Homo sapiens: one gene and its partner. The protein of the gene in region 1 interacts with the protein of each later gene in a pairwise test. Each region holds a gene or a part of one and is shown on either strand. Other genes may lie near its edges. The genes, in order: TACC2 and CLVS2.

Region 1 (3,821 bases):
TTCTGGCATCCTTGACTGCCTGGAGCAGCTGTGACCTCAGAAATGCATGAAAGATGCCGCTGGGTGCCAGCAGAACCTAGAGTAGCCAAGCCAAAGCTGGGGCTGGCCGGATCCCCATGGGCAGTAGGGTGGTGGCACCTTTGAGCATCATTTGGCCAACATTTGCAGCATCTGCAGCATGTTTGGGAAATAGGAGCAACCTCCTTGACTGGCAGGGGCTGATGAGGTAGAAAAGCTGAGAGGAGGCAGCTGGGAGAGCAGTGAGACTAGGCAAGAGGCAGGGCCAAGGATAGGCAGGCAGGACTGAAGGAGAGGTTACAGGTGATGGCTGGAGCGGCAGGTGGCAGACAGCAAGTGCTACTACAGGTGCCGGGGGCCTCCGTGTACAGGCTCCCCTGATCTTCACAGTGGCTCTGAGGAGTCAAGAACAGGCTTGCTGGTGGCCGTGGCTAGTATGAATATTTATGGAAGCCTCCGTATGCCTTCCTGCAGGATTTCTCTGTCTTCCTGTCCCACTCTTGACCCTTGCTTTAGCCACACTGGCCTCCTCGCTGTTTCTGTAACGCACCAGGTGCTCCTGCCGCAGAGCCTTTACTCGCACTATTCCTTCTACCCAGGATGCTTCCTCCCCAGGAGTCCTCCTGTTTCATGCACTTACCTTGATTCTGGCCTTTGCTTAGATGTCTCCTCAGAAGATCTTGCCTGACTACCTTATTTTAAAAGTGAAACTCTCCTATCCCGGCTTTATTTTTCTCCTTAGCATGTATCACCCTCTGAAATTCTGTACATTGTTTGTTTGTTTTTGAGACAGAGTCTCACTCACTCTGTCACCCAGGCTAGAGTACAGTGGCGCAATCTCGGCTCTCTGCAACCTCTGGCTCCCAGGCTCAAGCGATTCTCCTGCCTCAGGCTCCGGAATAGCTGGGATTACAGGCGCTCACCACCATGCCTGGCTAATTTTTGTGTTTTTTTAGTAGAGACTGGGTTTCACCATGATGACCAGGCTGGTCTCAAACTCCTGACCTCAAGTGATCTGCCTGCCTCGGCCTCCCAAAGTGCTGGGATTACAGGTGTGAGACACCATGCCCGGCCCTGGTGGTTTATTCGCTATCTTCCCCTGAAGAATGTGACTTCCAGGAAGGGAAAGGTTTTGTCTATTTCTGTTCCTTGTTGAATCTCTAGTACCTAGAACCATGTCTGGTCCTGATTAGGCACTTGGTGAATGTTTTTGAATGAATACTCTGAGCTGTTCTTTAATCGGTCCTCATGATCCTCATTGTACAGATGAGGGAACTCTGGGCGAACCTGGCCTGGGTCTTGAGCTAATTACGGGTAGGTCAGGTTCTGTACCCAAGTAGTACACACAGTGATGGGCGGGGTGGCCTGGGGCCGTGGTTTGTCAACCCCTACGCTGGAGGGTGATGTTTTGGTACAAGAGGAGAGGTGCCCCAATGCGTCCTGTGTCTGTAATTGATGGCGTTGTCTGTGTTTCCCCAGGATGTGGTTCTGAGACAGTCCCTGTCCCTGATGGCCCACGGAGCGACTCGGTGGAAGGAAGTCCCTTCCGTCCCCCGTCACACTCCTTCTCTGCCGTCTTCGATGAAGACAAGCCGATAGCCAGCAGTGGGACTTACAACTTGGACTTTGACAACATTGAGCTTGTGGATACCTTTCAGACCTTGGAGCCTCGTGCCTCAGACGCTAAGAATCAGGAGGGCAAAGTGAACACACGGAGGAAGTCCACGGATTCCGTCCCCATCTCTAAGTCTACACTGTCCCGGTCGCTCAGCCTGCAAGCCAGTGACTTTGATGGTGCTTCTTCCTCAGGCAATCCCGAGGCCGTGGCCCTTGCCCCAGATGCATATAGCACGGGTTCCAGCAGTGCTTCTAGTACCCTTAAGCGAACTAAAAAACCGAGGCCGCCTTCCTTAAAAAAGAAACAGACCACCAAGAAACCCACAGAGACCCCCCCAGTGAAGGAGACGCAACAGGAGCCAGATGAAGAGAGCCTTGTCCCCAGTGGGGAGAATCTAGCATCTGAGACGAAAACGGAATCTGCCAAGACGGAAGGTCCTAGCCCAGCCTTATTGGAGGAGACGCCCCTTGAGCCCGCTGTGGGGCCCAAAGCTGCCTGCCCTCTGGACTCAGAGAGTGCAGAAGGGGTTGTCCCCCCGGCTTCTGGAGGTGGCAGAGTGCAGAACTCACCCCCTGTCGGGAGGAAAACGCTGCCTCTTACCACGGCCCCGGAGGCAGGGGAGGTAACCCCATCGGATAGCGGGGGGCAAGAGGACTCTCCAGCCAAAGGGCTCTCCGTAAGGCTGGAGTTTGACTATTCTGAGGACAAGAGTAGTTGGGACAACCAGCAGGAAAACCCCCCTCCTACCAAAAAGATAGGCAAAAAGCCAGTTGCCAAAATGCCCCTGAGGAGGCCAAAGATGAAAAAGACACCCGAGAAACTTGACAACACTCCTGCCTCACCTCCCAGATCCCCTGCTGAACCCAATGACATCCCCATTGCTAAAGGTACTTACACCTTTGATATTGACAAGTGGGATGACCCCAATTTTAACCCTTTTTCTTCCACCTCAAAAATGCAGGAGTCTCCCAAACTGCCCCAACAATCATACAACTTTGACCCAGACACCTGTGATGAGTCCGTTGACCCCTTTAAGACATCCTCTAAGACCCCCAGCTCACCTTCTAAATCCCCAGCCTCCTTTGAGATCCCAGCCAGTGCTATGGAAGCCAATGGAGTGGACGGGGATGGGCTAAACAAGCCCGCCAAGAAGAAGAAGACGCCCCTAAAGACGTAAGTTCAGGGGTGGAGGTGGTAAGGATCAGAGGCGGGGGTGCGCATTGGCTGTGACCCTTGGTCATGTGCCTGGATAACCTTCGACTGCCCTAACCTTGCCCCTGGGTGCTGTGATGATGCCACGCTTACGGCCGTTGCACCAAGCAGACAATGTACGTGTTTTCCTTCCTCTCTGCGGTCACAGTGGTGGCATTTTCCCATCCACATACCCCTTTGTGTCCTTGATCTTTTGCTTTAATAAATCAATGGGCTGGAGCTTTACTTGTAGCCAAAGACCTAATGTTCAACTCCAGAGCAATCTGGGAGATCCCATGGAAGGGGAAAGGTCCTTAGAGATCTGGTTCATCTCCCTGTTGGTGACTGATTGCTTTTTGGAGAAGCTGGGAGATACACCCTTTAAAATATTAAAATGTATAGTACTTGTTTCTGCCTATTAATGAGACATTAGCCCAACCTACAAACATAGTAGATTCCAGGAGGCTCAGGAATGAGAGATGTGGCCTGGGCCCCTCCCTGCTGCACTCCAACCAGCCCGTAAGAAACACCCTTCTTTGTCTCCTTCCTTCTCTCCAGTCATCTTTTGTAGACAAAGTCCCTGCAAGTTCTGAAGAGATAAATGGAACCTGAAAGTGGGGAGCAAATCCCCACAATCCCCAGGAAGCCATTGGTCCTTGGCTCTATGGTCCCCAGACACTTGACAAGGCCAAGTACATCGTGCTTAAATATCAAACACCCATGCCTCCAGAATCCACCCCAGGACCCGGCTCTAATGTGGATGGCTGCTGGTCCTTTATTCTTTGGCCCCTGTGGTTAATATCTTGGCGATTTCCTTACTCTTACGGGAAGTATTGTCAGTAATTTAACAAGGCTGAGGAGATCAGTCTCCCAGGGGCAGCAGAACAGACCACAGCGCTGGCCCCTCTGGGTCTGCCTGGCACGAAAGAGACAGAACGACATGTTTACCTCCCATTCTGGGCTCCCCCTAACATTGAATTTCTGAGAAGAACCC
Region 2 (3,821 bases), on another chromosome or scaffold:
GGTCTTGGCATGGTGGTGGCTGTGTTTAGCAACCTAAAACTGTGTATGTATCTTTACTTCAAACATTTTGTGGTCTTATTTTGATATTGAAAAAAATGTTTATTCATATTCTGAATGAAACATATAGTGGTACACAATATTTGTCACATAGCAAATGCAAAGTAAAACAGTGACTTGATTTAAAAAGTCAGAAAGTGTTACTTCAGTACGAGACTAAATATGAGATCATGCATGTCACAACGGAACATTTCTAGCAATCCTATATTCTTATTCAGAATTACCATTGTTTTTAGATATACATAGAGTAGACACAGACACAGATACAGACACAGACATAGGTATAGATGTAATTATATAGCATTAAAAAGTCAATTTGAACTTAAAATAAAAATGAGTTTAAAGGTTAGTAACACATCAAATCTATTCCCAGGAAGAGCTTTTTTCTCTTAAGTGGCGTCTTAATTGGGAATTAGGAGGAATCAACCCTTCTTACTCTGTCTTGTGTTCTGGGAAAAAGGAGAAAGGGGCTGAGATATTTTTGGGGAACAGAGAGAAGGCAGCTCCAAATGTGCAGCCATTACAGGTCCATGCAGAGAATGGGATTATTTCCTTCACTAGACATAAGCACAGAGGTTTCATCTGAGTGTAGTTCCTTGGTGTTCACAGGTAGCACTTAAAGAACTTCTGATAGTAGTTACAGCTAACAAGGAAGCTCCCAAACATCTCCAAATTGTCAGTTTGTTCTCCTGCAATGACTTATCACAGTATTATTAAAAAACTCCATAAAGTAGGTTGGAAAATAGCAAGAGTCTATTCTTGAAGTGTTTTTTTTTTAATTTCTTGGGAAAGAAAAATATGAGTTCTCCAGTCCTTCAGGAGCTGAAGGCCTAGCCTAGCTCTAGTGCAAAGAGAAGACACAGGTTAAATAGGGATAACAATTATAAAAGGCTAGGTTACCATTCTGTGTTAGGTAACACAGTGGGTGGTAACCAATCTTGTTCACAAACTGAAGAACACCATATACATTGCTGGAAAAAGGGCAGAGTTAGGACTGATTCTATATGATATACACATTTCCAAACATGCATTATCTTATGCTGTCTACCATCCTGTATTAACTGTCCCTGTGGAGGTTTTTAAAAAGCATTGTTTAAGATAAGAGAGGAGCAAGGCTGTCTCACCAAGAGCAAGTCAGGAAGCCTACATCAGGAAAAACCTATATGGAGAAGAAACATCAGTGTGTCTTATTCAGTCCAGAGGCAGAAATCGAAGATTTCCAGCACCTGGAAAAGTTGCCCACTTTTAAGAGGTCAGCAGTTATCAATTTAGGTGTGTATAGATGCAGTCAGAAATTACTAATGAGTAAAAATCTAGATGACTTGGGCTTACTCAACATTGATGCCCCAGTCTAATGAATTACATCACTCAAGGACTAACTTGTAAATATTTTTAGAAGTTTAAAATCAATTCCATAAGCATTGTACACAAAGTAGCATAAAGCAAAGAGAGAGAATAGAAGGACACCCTGGAAGTTAAAAGCAACTTGACAATAGCAGGTTTATGACAGACCACTAAATAATAATATGTTTCCCATCTTCTAATTCCCAAGTAGTTAAACATTACTCACTGGAAGAAGCACTATTCCTATATAAATTCCATGTGACAGCCCCTCCCACTCACAAAAAAACCCAATGAAGTCTAAAGAAAATTTAGAGAGATGATCTTTGCATCTTAGAGACCAAAAAACATATTGATTGACTTTCCAACAGTTGAACATATTGCTGATCATATCCCAAATTCACCAGGTTAAATGAAATAATGAAGAAAATATTTAGCTAATTAATAGGCACAGAAAAAAGAAACAAAAACAAGCCTAAATAGCTAATCATTACAATCTAAAAAATGTTGCTTGTTCTGATTTTCAGATTAAAAATCTCAGCTCATTACCTGTATTTGTTTAGACAGGGAGCACTGTACTAGTGTCACAAACTCTCTTCCTTCAGCGTTTCTTCTATAATCCTTTCTTCAGTTAGTATTTTAATGTTTGTGCTCAAAAACTACAGATTTTTTTTGTTTTTGTTATTCTGTAAGTAAGACATTTTTTCATTCTAACACATTAGACAAGAGAAGTCAAACACAAGAGACCAAGGAAGTAGGTAATTTCCATATCCTACCTGCAGGCCTTCAATAGCTAATCGCAGCATACTTGGTGTGAGTTTAGAGGCTTGCTTGAAAGTGAAGTTACTCCAGTCTATGATCAAAACAAACCCATTCACTTGAAGCTCAGGATCTTCAATCATGGCTTCTAAAGAAAGTAAGATGGCACGCAAAATATCCACCAGTGTGTACCTATCGGCGACAGAAAAGTACTAAATTAGGTCTGACAACCACTTTTCCAAAAAGCTATAAAATATTTTCTAGCACACTAAAAATTCACTTTAAAATACCTTCAGAATCTTAAGGAAATAATTTTGTTTAAAAACCTATTTTAGGAAGAGGTTTAATTTATATGTACTCCAAGAACATAATCGAATTTAACATGTATTCTGCCCAAACAAATGGAAACGCTTTTTCATATTTTATCATCATTTAGTTTACCTCCAGGCCTTCTTTTGATTTTCTAAAATCTCATTCAACTAACCCAAAACTAGGCATCACACGTTTTAAGTGGTTCAAGAATGCCTTCAGTAATATTGACATTTCATATCTTCGTATTTGAAAAAACTGAGAATGAGATTTGAGTGAGTCTCATCAATAAATGAAAACACTGTACATGACAGCTATCAATAAAAGTTACTCAATTCAAATTACTTGTATTGAGTTTGTATCATAAAGAAAAGGAAAGGTGGTAGGGATAGAAAGAGAAGGAGATAAATATAAATAAAAGTGGGAAAAGTCATGGAAATTTACCTACAATAATACAAACCATCCTAATTCAAGGGTTGGATCTTTTTTTGTTGTGTTTTGTTTTGTTTTGTTTTCTGCTTTTCACCTTAGCAGGTTAGTTCCTGAAACGTTCCAGTAACCCAATAAATGCTCTTTATATTACTGTGAAAGTGACTTGACTAGAGTAGAAAGACACTGGTTGGAGATTAAGACACTGCTTCAATGGAGGCAACGGAACTAAGAACAAAAATAAGAAGCCAAATTTGAGTGGCATTTTAGACAATCTTGTTATACTGTGACAATGTGAGGACTGAAATTAGGGAAGAGTAAAAAATGACACATATTTTAGCTTCAGAGCCTGAATACATAGTAAAATTTTTAATCAATATCAATAATGCAAAAATAGGATACTGTTGGAAATGGCTGGGAATACAAAGTTTTGAATAGAACTTATTGTATTTGAGAAACATGTAGTATACCCAGAGAGGTATATCAAGCAAGCTTCTGAAACAAATGGATCCTAAACTCAGGGGAGAGCCCAAAACTGAAAATTCTGGAATTAAAAGCTTATAGACTCTAAGTTCAATGAAGTGAAGGAGGTAATGCAGTCAGAGCTAAGAGAAATATCAGATAATTATTCTAAAAAGGGAATCCCTAGAAATCTCAGCACTTTAAGAGGAGTGAGAAATTTTATGGAAGATGTTAACAATTTCAATTTTTGTACACTTTGCATTTTAAGTTTTTTCCCCGGACACACTCAGGAGAGATTTCAGGAATAGCTAGAGAAAGAGATCTGGACCTCAGGGAAGAGGCAGGATGGGGAGGGGAGTGGATTAGGAGTCGAAATCATTCCCATTTAGTGGAAATGATGAGTTCGTTAGGAAGGCAGTATGATACAGTGAAGATATATGAGGAAGTAGGTCTATTTTTACTTC

The links.
Region 2: the proteins of TACC2 (region 1) and CLVS2 interact in a two-hybrid assay, tested with the Homo sapiens proteins (one large-scale study listed by BioGRID).

What each region holds. Positions count from the first base shown.
Region 1 is NC_000010.11:122,208,900-122,212,720, forward strand, and holds part of TACC2 (transforming acidic coiled-coil-containing protein 2), read left to right. Parts: intron 1-974; exon of another isoform or gene 975-1,070; intron 1,071-1,497; coding exon 1,498-2,809; intron 2,810-3,821. UniProt on the Homo sapiens protein: Plays a role in the microtubule-dependent coupling of the nucleus and the centrosome. Involved in the processes that regulate centrosome-mediated interkinetic nuclear migration (INM) of neural progenitors.
Region 2 is NC_000006.12:123,009,513-123,013,333, reverse strand, and holds part of CLVS2 (clavesin-2), read right to left. Parts: intron 2,350-3,821; coding exon 2,175-2,349; intron 1-2,174. UniProt on the Homo sapiens protein: Required for normal morphology of late endosomes and/or lysosomes in neurons. Binds phosphatidylinositol 3,5-bisphosphate (PtdIns(3,5)P2).